Linked DNA regions of Homo sapiens: region 2 is linked to region 1. The links come from fine-mapping of genetic effects on gene expression. Tissue or cell type: nucleus accumbens. Region 1 holds a variant in brackets; the other region holds the start of a gene. All regions are shown on one strand. Distances are from middle to middle.

The links. PIP is the estimated chance that this variant, and not a neighbour inherited with it, causes the effect.
Region 2: RIOK2 starts here. The variant in region 1 is fine-mapped to the expression of RIOK2 in nucleus accumbens (GTEx, PIP 0.94).

What each region holds. Positions count from the first base shown.
Region 1 is chr5:98,090,328-98,098,132 of GRCh38, reverse strand. LINC01846 (long intergenic non-protein coding RNA 1846) reads left to right here. Exons shown (of 5, transcript NR_146477.1): 4 at 4,562-4,733. Among named protein-coding and RNA genes, the nearest start is that of LINC01846, 67 kb to the left of the region's middle. The variant A/T (reference allele first, on the strand shown) is at 4,301.
Region 2 is chr5:97,179,237-97,187,041 of GRCh38, reverse strand. RIOK2 (RIO kinase 2) reads left to right here and starts at 3,795. Exons shown (of 10, transcript NM_018343.3): 1 at 3,795-3,916. The coding sequence starts at 3,851.

The DNA of each region.
Region 1 (7,805 bases):
TGGGTGGGCCTCATCCAATCAGTTGAAGGCCTACATAGAAGAAAAGGCTGACAATTTCTTGAGTGAGAGAATTCTCCTGCCTGATGGTCCTCAAACTGGAACATCAGCTCTTCCTGGTTCTACAGCAGCTTTCCAATTTCAGTCACCAACTGGGACATTGGCTCTGCAGATTTTGGGTTTGCCAACATCTATAATCATGTGAGCCAATTCCTTACCATAAATCACTCTTTCTTTCTATATATTCAATTGGTTTTGTTTCTCTGGAGAACCCTGACTAATACATAAGATTTAACCTACTTGGTGGCCTGCCAAGACCTACCTGAACAACTTCACTATGAAAGAAAGTCAGCAGGGAAACTTCATGACTTTCAAATAGCACTAAATATTTAAAGAAAGTGAAATGTCTGGTGGAGGAGTATAGGCTACAACTGAGTCTTACGTATAAATTGGCATATGAGTAGAAGCTAAGTATCTGAATGAACTAGTATAATAATGCATTTGAAAAATAAAAATTACACACACACACAATACCCACATACATACTTTCTATACTGCGAGGAAAATGCATTCATCTTGTAGAATCATTCCTAAGAATATTTTCTGAAAAACATGAGGCCAACAGAACAATAAGGCTTATTATTGAGAATGTAGTTAAAAGGAAAATTAGCTAGTAAGTTTATTCTTATCCTTGAGTAAAATATAATTTATTGAAATTAATGTACTGAATGCAGTTCTGTATGCCATACCTTAAGAAAGAAATAACAGTATAGAAACTGATCCAGAAAAGAACAACCATACAAAGATGAATGGGCTTTTTAAGATATGTGATTTAAAGAGACAAAAACTTAGAGGTAAGGGTGAATGTAGGGTTGGAAGAATCAAAGTTTATAAAATTATAAAAGATGTGAATATGATTAATATTTGTTTATCCAGATCTAGAATATTAGAACTAGAAGGCATCTCATTAAGTATAGAAGAATCATTAAATAAAATAATCAGGATCAATAAATAAAAATAGGTAATAAAACTTAGAGACAGCAAATGTAAATAGCATGGTGCCAATTATTTGGCCACAATGTTCATAATTATCGATTTTCTCAAATGAGAAAAAATGATATTTGTGGATTATAAAGTGAATAAATGCCATTTATATCACATAGATTATAGACTTGGAAAACACTTTTTATAAATATTGCATTAAAAAATGGCAATCTGGGCATGGTAGCATGTGCCTGTGGTCCCAGCTACTCTGGAGGTTGAGGTGGGAATGATTCCTTGAACCCAGGAGGTCAAGGCTGTGGAGAGCTATGATCATACCACTGCACTCCAGCCTGGGTGACAGAGTGAGAATCTGCATCCAAAAAAAAAAAAAAGCAAAAAGAAAGAAAGGAAGGAAGATGGAAGGAAGGAAGGAAAGAAAGAAAGAAAGAAATGTCAATCCTTGGAAATGAGAAGAAAACAATTTCTCCACGTGTCACTTTTTTTTTCTTCAAAGGTTTTCTATATCCTGAAGGAACTTAAATTTAAAAAGCTGCCATGATAGATACACTATTAAAAACCATATTCAGACCAAAGATGTGAGCTCCTATGTCTGACACCTTATGCATAAATCAATACTTACAGTCCTGTTAGTAAGATACATGCCTGGGATAATAGATATACAAAATGAAAGGCCTTAGATCAGAGCTTGCTTAGCAGGCCATTTAGGTTTATATCTTACTTTCTTCAAGGCATTTATTTACTTTAGGAGATGCTGGGCCACAGAGGTTTCATTGGAATGTGTAAGCCATTATTACTCAATGTAACTCACATTTGCCTTTCTAAGCATGATGCAATTGCTTCTTCCTTTCCTTCATTTCTAGCTGAAATTATGCAGCTTTAGCAATTGATCTTCAACAGAATCAATAAATTATTCCATCACAACCTCGGAGAACATGTAAATGCTCAAGGAACATTTCATACCTTAGAATAACTTACATTGCGGAGGTAAATTATTAGGTAAACATTTATTCCACTTATTACACACTCAAGTCTGTTCAAAAGATTGTGCTACATGTCTGAAGTGACTTTGACATTGAACTTAAAACAATGACTCTGGTTATTAGCTGATCAGTCTCATTTTATATCACATTCACAATTACTTGTTCAACCTTCAACTGCAGCTGCAATATCAGGCTATTCACAATTTTAATAGTACTACTTGTGACTCCAATCTACTTCACACAGTACTTTGAGATCTGTTTACAATGCAACTTGCACTTTAAAATTAGAATAATTGATAAAGTTCTCATGCCTCCATTTCCTTATCCGTAAGTAAAATTGCCCCCAAAATATACACAACCCAAAAAGCTGCAAATACTGGACTAGAGTATAAATTATAGAATTAAAAAGCTAAAAGAATAGAAATCCACAGAATTTGATTTTCTTAACTGGTAGTTCATGATGGCCTTGGGGATGGGTTGGTGGAAAAGTGATTTCATCCATCTGAATACATTTAGGAGTCATTCAAATGTTTTGTCTAGTAATTAAAAGAGGAAAGAACACCTCACATCTGCAAAAATTAGTTCAAACTACATAATTCTCTGTCTCTTATGTATTTTAAAGTGATAGTCCTACTGTATTAGTTCATTCTCAGATTGCTATAAAGAATTACCTAAGACTGTTTATGAAGAAGAGAAGTTTAATTGACTCACAATTCCACAGGCTTAACAGGAAGCATGACTGCGAGACCTCGGGAAACTTAGAATCATGGTGGAAGGCAAAGGGGAAACAAGCACCTTCTTCACATCGTAGTGAGAGAGAGAGAGAGAGAAAGAGAAAGTACCACATATTTTTAAACCATCAGATCTTGTGAGAACTCACTATCATGAGAACAGCATGGGGGAAATCCACCCCCATGATCTAATCACCTCCTACCTCTGGGTTCCTCCCCAAAACTGGGAGTTACAATTCAACATGAGATTTGCATAGGGACACAGAGCCAAGCCATATCACCTACATTAAATGCTCCAAATAAATTTCATTTGAATTTGATACAGAAGGATAATTTATTCTGATGATATTAAAGACTCAGAAAAAAAAAGTTTTTAATGCAACCACTCATTTTTAACATAAGATTTTTTTCTTGGCTGAGATGAAGGATACCAAGAAAATGCCATTTTCTTCCCCCTACTCTATCCGGGAGCTTTTTCTTTGGATTTTCACAAAAGAAAGACTTTTTAAAAATTATTTTTAAAATGAATCAGTGATGCCTTAATTTTATGTGTCATCATCTACATTTCATTTTCAACTTTTGCTGTTTTATCTTCTTCCTTGTTAGGCTCTTTGAATCTGGCTTTGTTGTTCCTGTTCCTGACATTTATGAATAAATAAAAACTATGGAACTCAACAAGTGAGACAATCCTAGAATAATAGATGCATAATGAAGAATCTCACAGAAGTTTCTTTCTAGTGGGCCACCTAACCCTTGCCTCACCCTCACCTAAGTATATAAGTAAAGATGAAGTTTTAGATGAAACCTCTGGTGTACAGAGATTTCATCTAGGAATGTTGCTACAGTGCAAACTGTCATTATCTAGATAAAATCACATATATTTTCCTCAAAATAATGATACTCTCACTTGCTTTCCTTCACAGCCCAGCTGAAACCATTTAGCCTTAGGACTTTGTCTTCAGTGGGACATATTGATTATACCATCATATCTCAAGAGACACACATCCACATACCCAAATCATTCCACATCTTAAAATAATTTTCACTGCAGAGAAACATCAATGAGTGTGCATTTGCTCCTCTTATCTGGTGTTTCACACTGAATTCTGTTCAGAAAATATTGATCAGCATGCTTGGATTTGGTTAAGAATATGAATAAATTTAATCAACGTATCAGCTGAAAATGCCATGAAAAAAATCCACACAAAATAGAAATCTACAGGTTAATTAAACACACTCAAAATACATTCATAAAATAAGAACATGGTGGGGGAACAGGGTAAAAGAAACAGATGAACTAAACTGACTTTTCTTGCAAATAGGTATATAACAGAGTGGACTCAAGGTTATCCTGCATAAAATGAATGTGGCAAAAGAGTCCTGCTAATGACTTTCCAATTGCTACACAATAGTTGTTTTCAAATAAAACCAACAAGCTAATTACAGGCATATTACCTGAGGCCACATATTAGGTTGGTGCAAAAGGGATTGCAGTGCTTGCCATTAGAAGTAATTAAAAGTAATGGCGAACACTGCAATTACCTGATAAATCTTGTTTTTCTTAGTGACATTTTTGTACACTCTTGC[A/T]ACAACTTCTTTGAATGTGAATAGGTTGTATATATGCAAAAATATGTGACTATATAAATATAGAATATGTTATGATCATTGAAAAGCCTGGCTCAAAATACCTATGCCATATTTATTTATCCATGCTTTTATCTCTAAACCCCTTTATTAACATATCTGGCCTCTACCTCTACTATTTTCACAATATTTTTCATTTGTATATATTACTATTGATATGACACATGATACAACATGATTTTATCTGGATTCTTCTATTTATAGCTATTTTTAGCCTCTGTGGACAGCTCCATAGGGAGAATGAACTATTCGTCAACGTCACCCATATTTTACTGAAGATTTTGAAGGTATTCCAATGTGACTGACTACTACGTTTCCTCACATGTGTGCTGCTGTATCTGAGATCACCATGTTTTCAATTATCTCATATGAACCTGTAAGTAAGATAAATCTACTTTTAAAAACATTAGAGATATTGGAACAGTAAGGAAAATATTTTTAATTAAAATATCTGCTACTGGCAACTTTGTCATCTTCCAAATGTAAATATAGAACTTCCATAACCATAAAGTTTGTTGTAAAACTTCGTGATGATCCTTTCATCCAAGGGAGTAGCAAGGTCATGTTAAAATTACCTGGAGAGAGAAATAGAGGTGTGTTCACATTTTTTTTCTTTTTTTAAAATTTTTTTTTATTATACTTTAAGTTCTGGGGTACATGTGCTTAATGTGCAGTAAGGTGTGTTCACATTTTAAAACTATTAATAAGAACTCAAGAGGCCCTCCTGCCCCAAATAGACTCTCCTTAAAAACTGTATCTGATATAATTCCACTTATCTGGGAACAGAACCTAAACTATTTTTTCCCCAAGTAAATGCTGCTGTTTCTTATGTCTGCATCTTCCCACACACAACTCTCTGGAATACTCTTTATTTTCTCTCTCTCTGGTAAAGGCCTACTTTCATTTGAGATTCATATTCTCTGAGACATACTCCTTGAGAACATTCTAGGCTTATGAAAGTCCCCTCTCCCATCTCTGTGCTCCCATGACATTTTGCCCCTATGATATTTATCACCCATCACAAAATTGTTATTATTATTACTATTATTATTATTATATGAGACAGGATCTTGCTCTCTTGCCCAGCCTGGAGTGCAGTAGCATGATCATGGCTCACTGCAGACTTGACCTCCTGGGCTCAAGTGTTCTCCCACCTCAGCATCCTAAATGGCTGGGAGTACAGGCGTAGGCCACTACAGCTGACTAATTTCTGTATTTTTTGTAGAGACAGGGTCTCATTCTGTTGCCCAGGCTGCTCTCAAACTCCTAGGCTCAAGCAATCCACCCACCTTGTCCTCCAAAAGTGCTGGGATTATAGGTGTGAGACACCATACCTGACCTGTTTTTAAGTGTTAGATTCTCCTACTACACTAGGTATCTCTGAAGAGAAGAATTAAGCAAGAATAAAATCTTATTCTAAAATCGCTTATCACAGAGGTAGCAAGTTAATGTCAACATAGTCTAAATTCTGATTTGTAGGTATTTTTTTCACTTTTATGGTGTTTTACAAATATTGAAATTTTTGTATGAAGGTACAAATTTCTGGCTCCTCTTGAAAAATCTAAAATCTTACAACACTAGGCCTTCATTCCCACATGATAACATGAGGCTACAGTTGAATAATGGATGTCCATTTTGGACATGGTCCCTGTCTCCAGTTTGTCTCAGTTTTCATCATTCAATTTGTTCTATATCTTGCTTTACTTTCCTTGGTAATACTATATGCCTGCTATAGTATTTAATTGTGTTAGAGATTCCAGGCCTATTCAAAGTAATCTTTAAGGCTATTAGAAAATACATGAAATAATAGAACACAATGATAATAGCAGAAACTGACTTTCATAGCACATAGAGCATTGTGGAAGGCCAGGCCTGTTCCAGGTACAAAAGATGAAAATCTGGGTTGTAATGGGCACAAGCAGAAAGTGGTAGGAAGTTGTTAGACCCTCAAAGGAAGATGAGGATGACAGAATGCAGAATAGGAAATGTATAAAATTAATTTCACCTTCTTTACAGCTTTGCTTAAGGGCAGGATTAGTGATAAGATTTGAAACTGAATCTGCAAAGCTCACATTAAAACATTCAATGTTGTAAAAGGAAAGATTTGCAGAACAGTACCATATGATCTTCCTAGAAGGTCTTTTGTGAAAGATATTCTACTTCTCCCAGTATTTTGGCTTTTCTTCACCTCAGTTCATGTATTTCTGTACCTGATAATTTTTGAGTTATGAATTTGAATGATCTTTGTTGCTGAATTTTATTAGGCTCTGTATGTGCAAAATCCCCAGACGTGATGGTCTTATGGATAGTGGGTGCATGTGTGCGTATGTGTATATGAGTGTGTGTGTTGTAGGAAAATTGGAATTAAGAGAGAATAGGAAAAGAAGAGTGATAGGAAGGTATAGAAATGGTTAGATGATATATGGTTAATAGATTTAACCAGTTGTTAAATCTAAAAATATATATATTAAATATGTATTAAATATTGACTATTATGATCACTTTCTCTTATTGTTACCTTCATCCTGTAGATCAGGCAAACAGAACTGATTGTCTTGAAATCTTGAACTTTGAATGCTCAGACTGTTCATGTTCCTCCATGTAATGCTTTAAAAGAAGATTGGTAATAAGGAAAAGGTCTCTGCAATGATAACATAACAGTCACATATTCTAAGCAAGTAATAAAGATGACTATGATTACAGTAATAGAAAATGGTGGGAAGAGAAAATTGCAATACCCAAGAAAGAAGTAGGTTCCTGTCTGTGCCTCCTCAAAAATTTTACTCAATTTTAACAGATAACCAGTTATTACATATTTATCTTTTTTACCACTGTGGTAGGCATTTTGGGAGACATGGAGACAGAATCTCCTTTCTCAAATGGCTTATGTGTAGAAGTGAAATTATTGGTGTTAAGGATATATATCTGTTTAGGTTACAATTGTTAACTAACTCTACATCTATAGCATTACAGTACCATTTTCAAGGTAGAGTGCCCTGCATTTTGCTCCATGCATCAATCACTGTTGCCATCATATATCATTGGGAGATATCCTATCTGTTAGGACATTAGTATAGATTGGAAAGTAGAATGATAGTTACCAGGTGTTGGGGTGGTTGGCTGGGGGGCAGGGGAGAGATGCTGGTCAAAGGATACAAAATTTTAGCTAGGGAAAAGGGTTCAATTCAAGAGATCTATCATACCACATGGTGACCATAGCTAACAATAAATTATATTCTTGAAAAATGCTGAGAGTGGATATAAAATCTTTGCATCACAAAAGTCATAATTATGAGAGGTAATGCATGTTAATTAGCTATACTTAGTCTTTCCATAGTGTATACAGACTTCAAAACAACTTGTTGTTTCATTTGTCAATTTAAACAGTTTCATTTGTCAATTTAAAAATTCTAAAAAAAATAAGAAATTTTGGGCCAGGCACAGTGGC
Region 2 (7,805 bases), 910 kb after region 1:
GTATATAAATCTCTGCTGTGTATTCTGAACATGCTTCTGAATTCAACAAGTTTGTGTTGTGAGTCTCCCATTGAAACTTGCCATAAACTCCACACATCCCTATCTTCCATTCTGTGTCTTTTTCCACCACTGATATCCCTTATATGCAAATGTATGGCGCTACCACCCATATGCAGTAAAATCTATCATAATTTTTTCTGAGTTTTAGCTAGTATAATATCTTAAATGTAAATATACAAAATTTCTTTTTCTTGAATCTATGCTTTAAATTCAGTCTCCACATTCAACTTTTTCTGTAATTAACCTAACCTATGGGCAAGCAGGAGAGGTTAAAAAGTGGCCAGAATCATTAAAGACAACAGGCTACAGAAGATTAGAGGGAGGAGCACTTACTTCCCTTTGAGAGTGTGAGAGGTTGAATGATGACCCATCCAAAAATATCCACATACTAATTTCTAGAACCTAAGAATTTATCCTATATGGAAAAAAATATTTTACAGATGTTATTAAGGGTCTGAGTGGATCCTAAGTGCAATTACATGTATTTGTATAAGACAGAGACAGAAGGAAACACACACACTCACGAGTAGAGAAGGCAATAACGTAAGCATGGAGACAGAGACTGGAGTGATGTGCCACAAGCCAAAAGAATGCCAGCAGTCACCAAATCCCAGTAGGAGCTGCAAAAGGCAAGGAACAAATTCTCCACTAGAGCCCCTCTTGGGGGAACATGGTCCTGTCAACACGTTGATTTTGACCCAGTAAAAATAATCTCTTATTTCCAGCGTCCTGAACTGTAAGAGAATAAAGTTCTATTGTTTTAAGTCGTCAAAGTTTGCGGTAATATGTTAACAGCAGCAAGAGAAAATTAATATAGAGATAAATAGGAATAATAAAGAAAAACCTTATGTGGTGAATAGAATTTTAATGGTAGATAAGATTTACATATATTGTGATTGAAAAAGAAGAAAAACAGTAGGGAAGAGGTAATATTACAGGTGGAGGGAAAAGTATTACAGGTGAAGGGAAAACTTAGTAAAAAAGAAATTTAAGGGAGTTATACAGGGAAAACAAAAGTAGTTCAATTAGACAAGAGTACAAACTGCTTGAAGATGGTGATACAGATTGTTGACAATCCTGAATGCCAGTCTAAACGTGCACTTTGATCTGTAGACAGTTAAGGTTCTCTGCAACTTGTAAGGACAGGGTCAGGGCAGGGGAGGTAAGGGAGGAGGAAACACCAACATGATACACCTTTTGCACATCTGTGTCACACTACTCTCTATTTTTCTACTCTTCACCCTCCAACACAGGTATGAGGGTTGAGATTGATTCCCCAGGACCTAGTAAAAAAGTATGGCATATATGTTTGATGAATAGTGAATGCATTAACGAATAATACTGTACATGTTTTGTTTTACTCATCACTAAGCATGGTATGAGGGAGTAGAACAGAATACCAAACTGCACTTCAATCACTTACTTTTACTCTTCAAAGTTCTGATTATTAAAATGATTTTATTTTAAAAGTAATATTCCAAATATAAGAGATTTGGACTTAATGTGATTAACCGTAAGGCATACTTCAGAACACCAATAGCAATTCTAGTCAATTCCACTCAGTTAATGGTGGCTGTCTGAGGCAATGTTGAGAAATAATGTAAGAATTACACCATAATAGATTAGGAACATTTGCTAAAGTGCTGGATTCGGAGTAGAAACATAAATGGCTTGTTTCCCATTCCATTCTTGCTCTAGAAGTTAGTTATTTGCATACAAATGGCCAACAGGTACATGAAAAATTGCTCAACATCACTAAGTATATAAGAAATGAAAATCAAAGCCATAATGAGATATTATCTTACCCCAGTCCAAATGGCTACTGTTAAAAAGACAAAAAATAATGGATGTTGGTGAAGATGCGGAGAAAAGAGAACTCTTATACACTGTTGATGAGAATGTAAATTAGTACAGCCACTGTGGAAAAGTATATGGAGATTTCTCAAAAAATTAAAAATAGAATTATTCAATCCAGCAATCCCACTATTGGGTATCTACCCAGAGGAAAGAAATCAGTATATCAAAGGGATACCTACACTTGCATGTTTATCGCAGCACTATTCACAATAGCAAAGCTATGGAATCAACCTAAGTGTCCATCAACAGATGAATGGATAAAGAAAATGTGGTATATATACACAATGGAGTACTATTCAGACATAAAAAATGAAATCTTGCCATTTGCAGTAACGTGGATGGAGCTGGAGGTCATTATCTTAAGGGAAATAAGCCAGGAACAAAAAGACAAATATCACACGCTCTTACTTATATGTGGAAGCTAAAAAATTTGATCACATTAAGGTAGAGAGTGGAAAGACAGATAACAGACTGGGAAAGATGAGGGGAGTGGGAACAGGATGAAGAGAGTAGGTTAAAGGTTACAAACATGGAGTCAGATAGAAGGAATATATTCACTGCTTGATAGTAGAGTAGGGTAACTATAGTTACACAAAAATATATTGTATTTGGATGACAGACACCCTAAATACTTGTAACAAAATTTCTCACGTACCCCATAAATTTGTACAAATAAAGTTAGTCACTTGGTTTTTTTAAAAACTTTTCGCCCAGGCGCGGTGGCTTATGCCTGTAATCCCAGCACTTTGGGAGACTGAGGGGGGCGGATCACCTGAGGCCAGGAGTTTGAAACCAGTCTGGTCAACAGGGCGAAACCCCATCTCTACTAAAAATAAAAATATTAGCAGGGCGTGGTGGTGTGAGCCTATAATCCCAGCTACTTAGGAGGCTGAGGGAGAAGAATCCCTTGAACCTAGAGGGCAGAGGTTGCAGTGAGCCAAGATCGCGCCCCTGTACTTCAGTCTGGGTGACAGAGCCGGGCTCTGTCTCAAAAATAAAAAAAAAATTCATTTCTATGCCTTCTTATGTAAGTACAGAAAGAAAAATTCCGTTTAAATGGAGATGTTCATTGGTTGAAGATGGTTAATCAAAGACATGCTGCATTCAAGTAAAAAGCAGACAAAGGCTTGAATATCGAGGAGTTGCAGAGCCAGTATGGGTAACTATTCTAAAATCCTTAAATCGCTCCTGGGCCCTCGAAGTCCTACCCGCGTAGGTCAGCCCGAACTATCAAAATCCCCACTTCCTCTGGAGGTAAGGACGTCCGCCGCGCTCTCCACGTGTCACCTTAAACTCCCACCCCAACCAGCGCAGGCGCACTTCGAAGCCTCCTAGACCAACCTAAGAGAAGTACTGAGCAAGCGCATGAGTTCCATTAACCACGCCCTCCGGAGCTGCCGGAGCAGGCGCAATTAGGAGTAGAGGGCGTGCTTGTGTGATTACAGTCCACTTTACCTTTAACAGATTTGGTTGTCTGGACTCTAGCTCAGGTTCTTTTACCCCTGTCTTGTTGGAAGTCACTTTGCCTAGAGTAGAAGTTGTTTGCGGGAAAAATTTGCTCCTCCCATTAAGTAACCACTTTGCTCTCTGAGGCGGAACGTGTCATTGAGGCAGCAAGTCCTGACAGATATGGAAAAAAAAAGGCACATTGTAGAGAATATCTACACTCCGCCAACTCAGTCACAACGCAAAAATTACACAAAAATAAAACGTTCACTTGTTACATACTATGTGTTTCATAAGACATACAAGTAGTTTTATTTTCCTATATCAATGAGAACAGCACTTCTAACTATTAACAAGGACCTATACTAAGACGCAGCGCGTGCGCGAGCCATCTGGCGCTGTAAAGCGCTTAGAGGCTGGAATAACGACCTGCCTTACGCTTTGCGGCTGTCGTCGGAGAGGCATCTGGGTTCGGACTGGGGCCGCCATGGGGAAAGTGAATGTGGCCAAGTTGCGTTACATGAGCCGAGATGACTTCAGGGTCTTGACCGCGGTAAGAAACCCGCCGTTCCTGTTCTCCCTTCCCCTTAACACTGTGTGACCTCTTCCTGTTCCTGCAAGTTTTCTGGGATCTGAGCAGGCACACTCTGGGACCCGGGACGTGGCAGAAGCTGGGAATGGAGAAGAGAGCATTCAGAAAGTCGGATTTTTAAAAAGGTTTTGTTTGGGAGCTTACCTTCCCCCAGATAGAGCAAAGGTCCCGTCTTCTAATAATTGTTTTCTTTTCTGCTGCTATTCGCTTTGCGCTGAAGAGAAACGCTTGCATCTCTGTGGCCTGGAAACTTCTCTGATCCTGAGCTTCCGACCAGCTGTGAAAGGTTTAAGCCCCCCCCCCCCCCCGAGATTTGATAATATTGACTTCCCTACTAACAGACTCAGTCGCATAGCAGTCTTTCTGATTCATTCAGTCAACACATATTTGTCGGTTTTTTAGTAGCAACATTAGGAGGTTCACTTGTTCAAACAGACAAGTGGAGAGAGAGACACAGATCATCAAGTAAACGAAAAATAGGATAATGGATAAATGCTATGAAAATGATAAAGGATAATGGCATAGAAAGTATATGTATCTGGTGGAGAGGAGGGGCACAAGTTATTGGCCTTTGGTAGACAATCAATAAATATTCACTAAATGAAAGAATGAATGGGGGAATAATAGGAGCTGTGTGAGAAAGAGACAGCCCAGTGAAGTCCTTGGAAAGAGTTGGAGGCAGAGGAAACAGCAGTAGTAAGTGCAAAGGCCTTGAGACAGAAAAGTCTTTGAAGAGAGGAAAGGCCAATGTAATGTGGCTGGAGCAAAGTGAGATGCACACTAATGGTTGGAGATGTAGCGGAAAAGGTGAGAAATTATGTACTACAGAGCCTTGGAGGTTTGGTAAAGAATGTGGGGGTAACCACTAAATGTTTTTAATCAGGGGAGTAACAAAATCTGATTTTATGGCCTCAGTCTTATGGCACAGAAATTAATATATAGATCAAGACATTTGTACATTTATTTAGGAGCCGTTATCTTTTGGTAAGGAGTGAACCCCATGATAAGGACTACCTATATTGTGTAATTATGTAATAGGATATGCGATGTGAGTCACACTGGTTCTTGCATTATGTTAAGGCTTCAAGTTTTGGATTTTTAAAATTAATCTTAAATAGCGCTTAAGTATTAAACTATCAAATGCAAAATCAGTGTGAAATTTGGAAGACAATGTTTACTTTGCCTCTCATGTAGATTCTTCTAATCAGCTGGACTTTCTCTATGAAAACCTACTATCACTTCGGAAAGATACCTTCCTTTCCTGCTTTCTCAGCACACTCATTCCTTAGTGTCTCTGACAGAAGTAGGGGTCAAAAGTAAGAGTGTTAGAGGACGGGGGAGGCAGAGACAAAGCATGGAAAATAAGTTAAATTTAAAAGTTAAGGTTTTGGTGAGACATCAAAATGATGCCAGATTTATCTTCCAAAACATTGGCGCTGCAATATTTAAATTATTTGTAAAGTTCACCAAGAAATGACTTAGTCATTAAATATGACATTCCGGTCTCAGTTGAATCTCACCAGTGTTGGTACCCTTTCTTGGGCCTCTCTTCCCTTTTACTTCTTTGGCTCCTCCTATATCAATAATCATTGTTTGACTAGCTGCCCTTAGCTTTCAATATGAACTTGCCCCAGAATTCTGCTCCCAAACATTCCTTTTCTTCCATTATCTCCTGCTCAGTGATAGCATCCACTTCACATCTTCAACTCTCACTTCTATAAAATAATTGACAATTTTTCCTTCTAATTATAACTTCATTCCTAAATATAGGCCCCTTTCCTATTTAATTTTCTCTCTTTCTTTTTTTTTTTTTTTTGAGACGGAGTCTTATTCTGTTGCCAGGCTGGAGTGCAGTGGCACAATCTCAGCTCACTGCAACCTTCACCTTCTGGGTTCAAGCGATTCTCCTGCCTCAGCCTCCCAAGTAGCTGGGACTATAGGCGCACACCACCACGCCCAGCTAATTTTTGTATTTTTAGTAGAGATGGGGTTTCACCATGTTGGCCAGAATGGTCTCGATCTCTTGACCTCGTGATCCACCCACCTTGGCCTCCCAAAGTGCTGGGATTACAGGTGTGAGCCACTGCACCTGGCCTCCAGTTTTCCTTTAAACATTTTTATTTGACTCTCAGTGCTCAAACCAAATTCAATTTTTTTCTACCCCCTTTCTCTTTTCCCAAGCTCTATAAAAAAAAAAAATAATAAAATCTTAAAACTTGCTTTTCCTCATCACTTCCAATTGTGGCTTTCCGTTCCCTTTACCCTTCCACATCTAATTGCCAAGCTCTCCCATAATACTTCCTAAAGATTTTTATTCCTTCCTTCCAGTACCACTACCACTTACCCTGTTCTGGTGGCTCTTTCCTCTGAGCTGGACTTCTGTCTTAGTTCTCCGGAGTACCCCCTCAGATTTTGCCATCTCTAAGCCAATTTGCATATTCCTGGTACATTAATGTCCTTAAAATAACCCTGTTCGTGTGTCTCCCACGCCTAAACATCTTCAAGAGCTTCCTGCTCTCATCAGGATAAAATATAAAAGTATTTGGTCTACATTTTAATGCCTTCTCTATCCTAGAAGTATCTTCCAGCCGCGTTTGCATGAATTCTATATGCTATCCCATCTGAGCTGCTACTGTACTCAGCTATTCTCTGTGGTCAGTACTTTCTTGCATATGTGCCATTTTCAAATCTTTTTCTTTCACTAATATCCCCTTGTCTGTTTTCTCTGTATGCCCACATCTTTTAAAAGTCAGTCTCTAGTTTTGCATCTTCCTTGGAACTGATCCCTCAGCTAGAAGTATTCTTATTCTGCCCTGAGCTACCTTTTTAAGCACTTATCACTTCTTAACTTCTAATAAACTTAGATGTATACCATTTTTTAAAATTTCCATCATGAGATAAAAATTTCTCAGAGGTAAAAAGCACATATATATATATATATATACATATATATATATATACATATACACATGCAGAAGAGCATGTAGGATAGAGATATATATATATGTGCTTTTTACCTCTGAGGAATAAATTTAAAAATATATATATAATATATATATTATATATATATTATATATATATAATATATATATATTTTATATATATATATTATATATATATATAAAATACTTTTAAGTTCTGGGGTACATGTGCAGAACGTGCAGGTTTGTTACATAGGTATACACATGCTATAGTGGTTTGCTGTACCCATCAACCCATCCCATCTACATTAGGTATTTCTCCTAATGCTATCCCTCCCCTAGCCCCCCACCCCCCGACAGGCCCCAGTGTGTGATGTTCCCCTTTCTGTGTCCACGTATTCTTACTGTTCAACTCCCACTTATGAGTGAGAAAATGTGGTGTTTGGTTTTCTGCTCTTGTGTTAGTTTTCTGAGAATGATGGTTTCCAGCTTCACCCATGTCCCTGCAAAAGGCATGAACTCATCCTTTTTTATGGCTGCATAGTATTCCATGGTGTATATGTGCCACATTTTCTTTATCCAGTCTATCATTCATATATATATATATATCCTCTACGATGCCTACATGTAGTACTTTCTCATTAAATACCTGCTTAATAAATATCTGGCATATCTGTAGTTTTTAAAGACAAATGTTTAGGTGTCATCAAGTATTTTAGCATTGACCAAATGTCATCAGTATGTCTAGCACTCACAGTTCCTACTCTTGAAATGGAAAGCCAATACAAATATCAATGATTAGATTTCAAATTGCAATTAAAAATATTTTCAAGAGACGGAAGTGATTATGTCTCAGAATTAGTTGGAGAACTGCATAGTCAGGAAAGCTTCAAGGAGAAGTTAATTTCGCAGGGTTTTGATAGACAAGG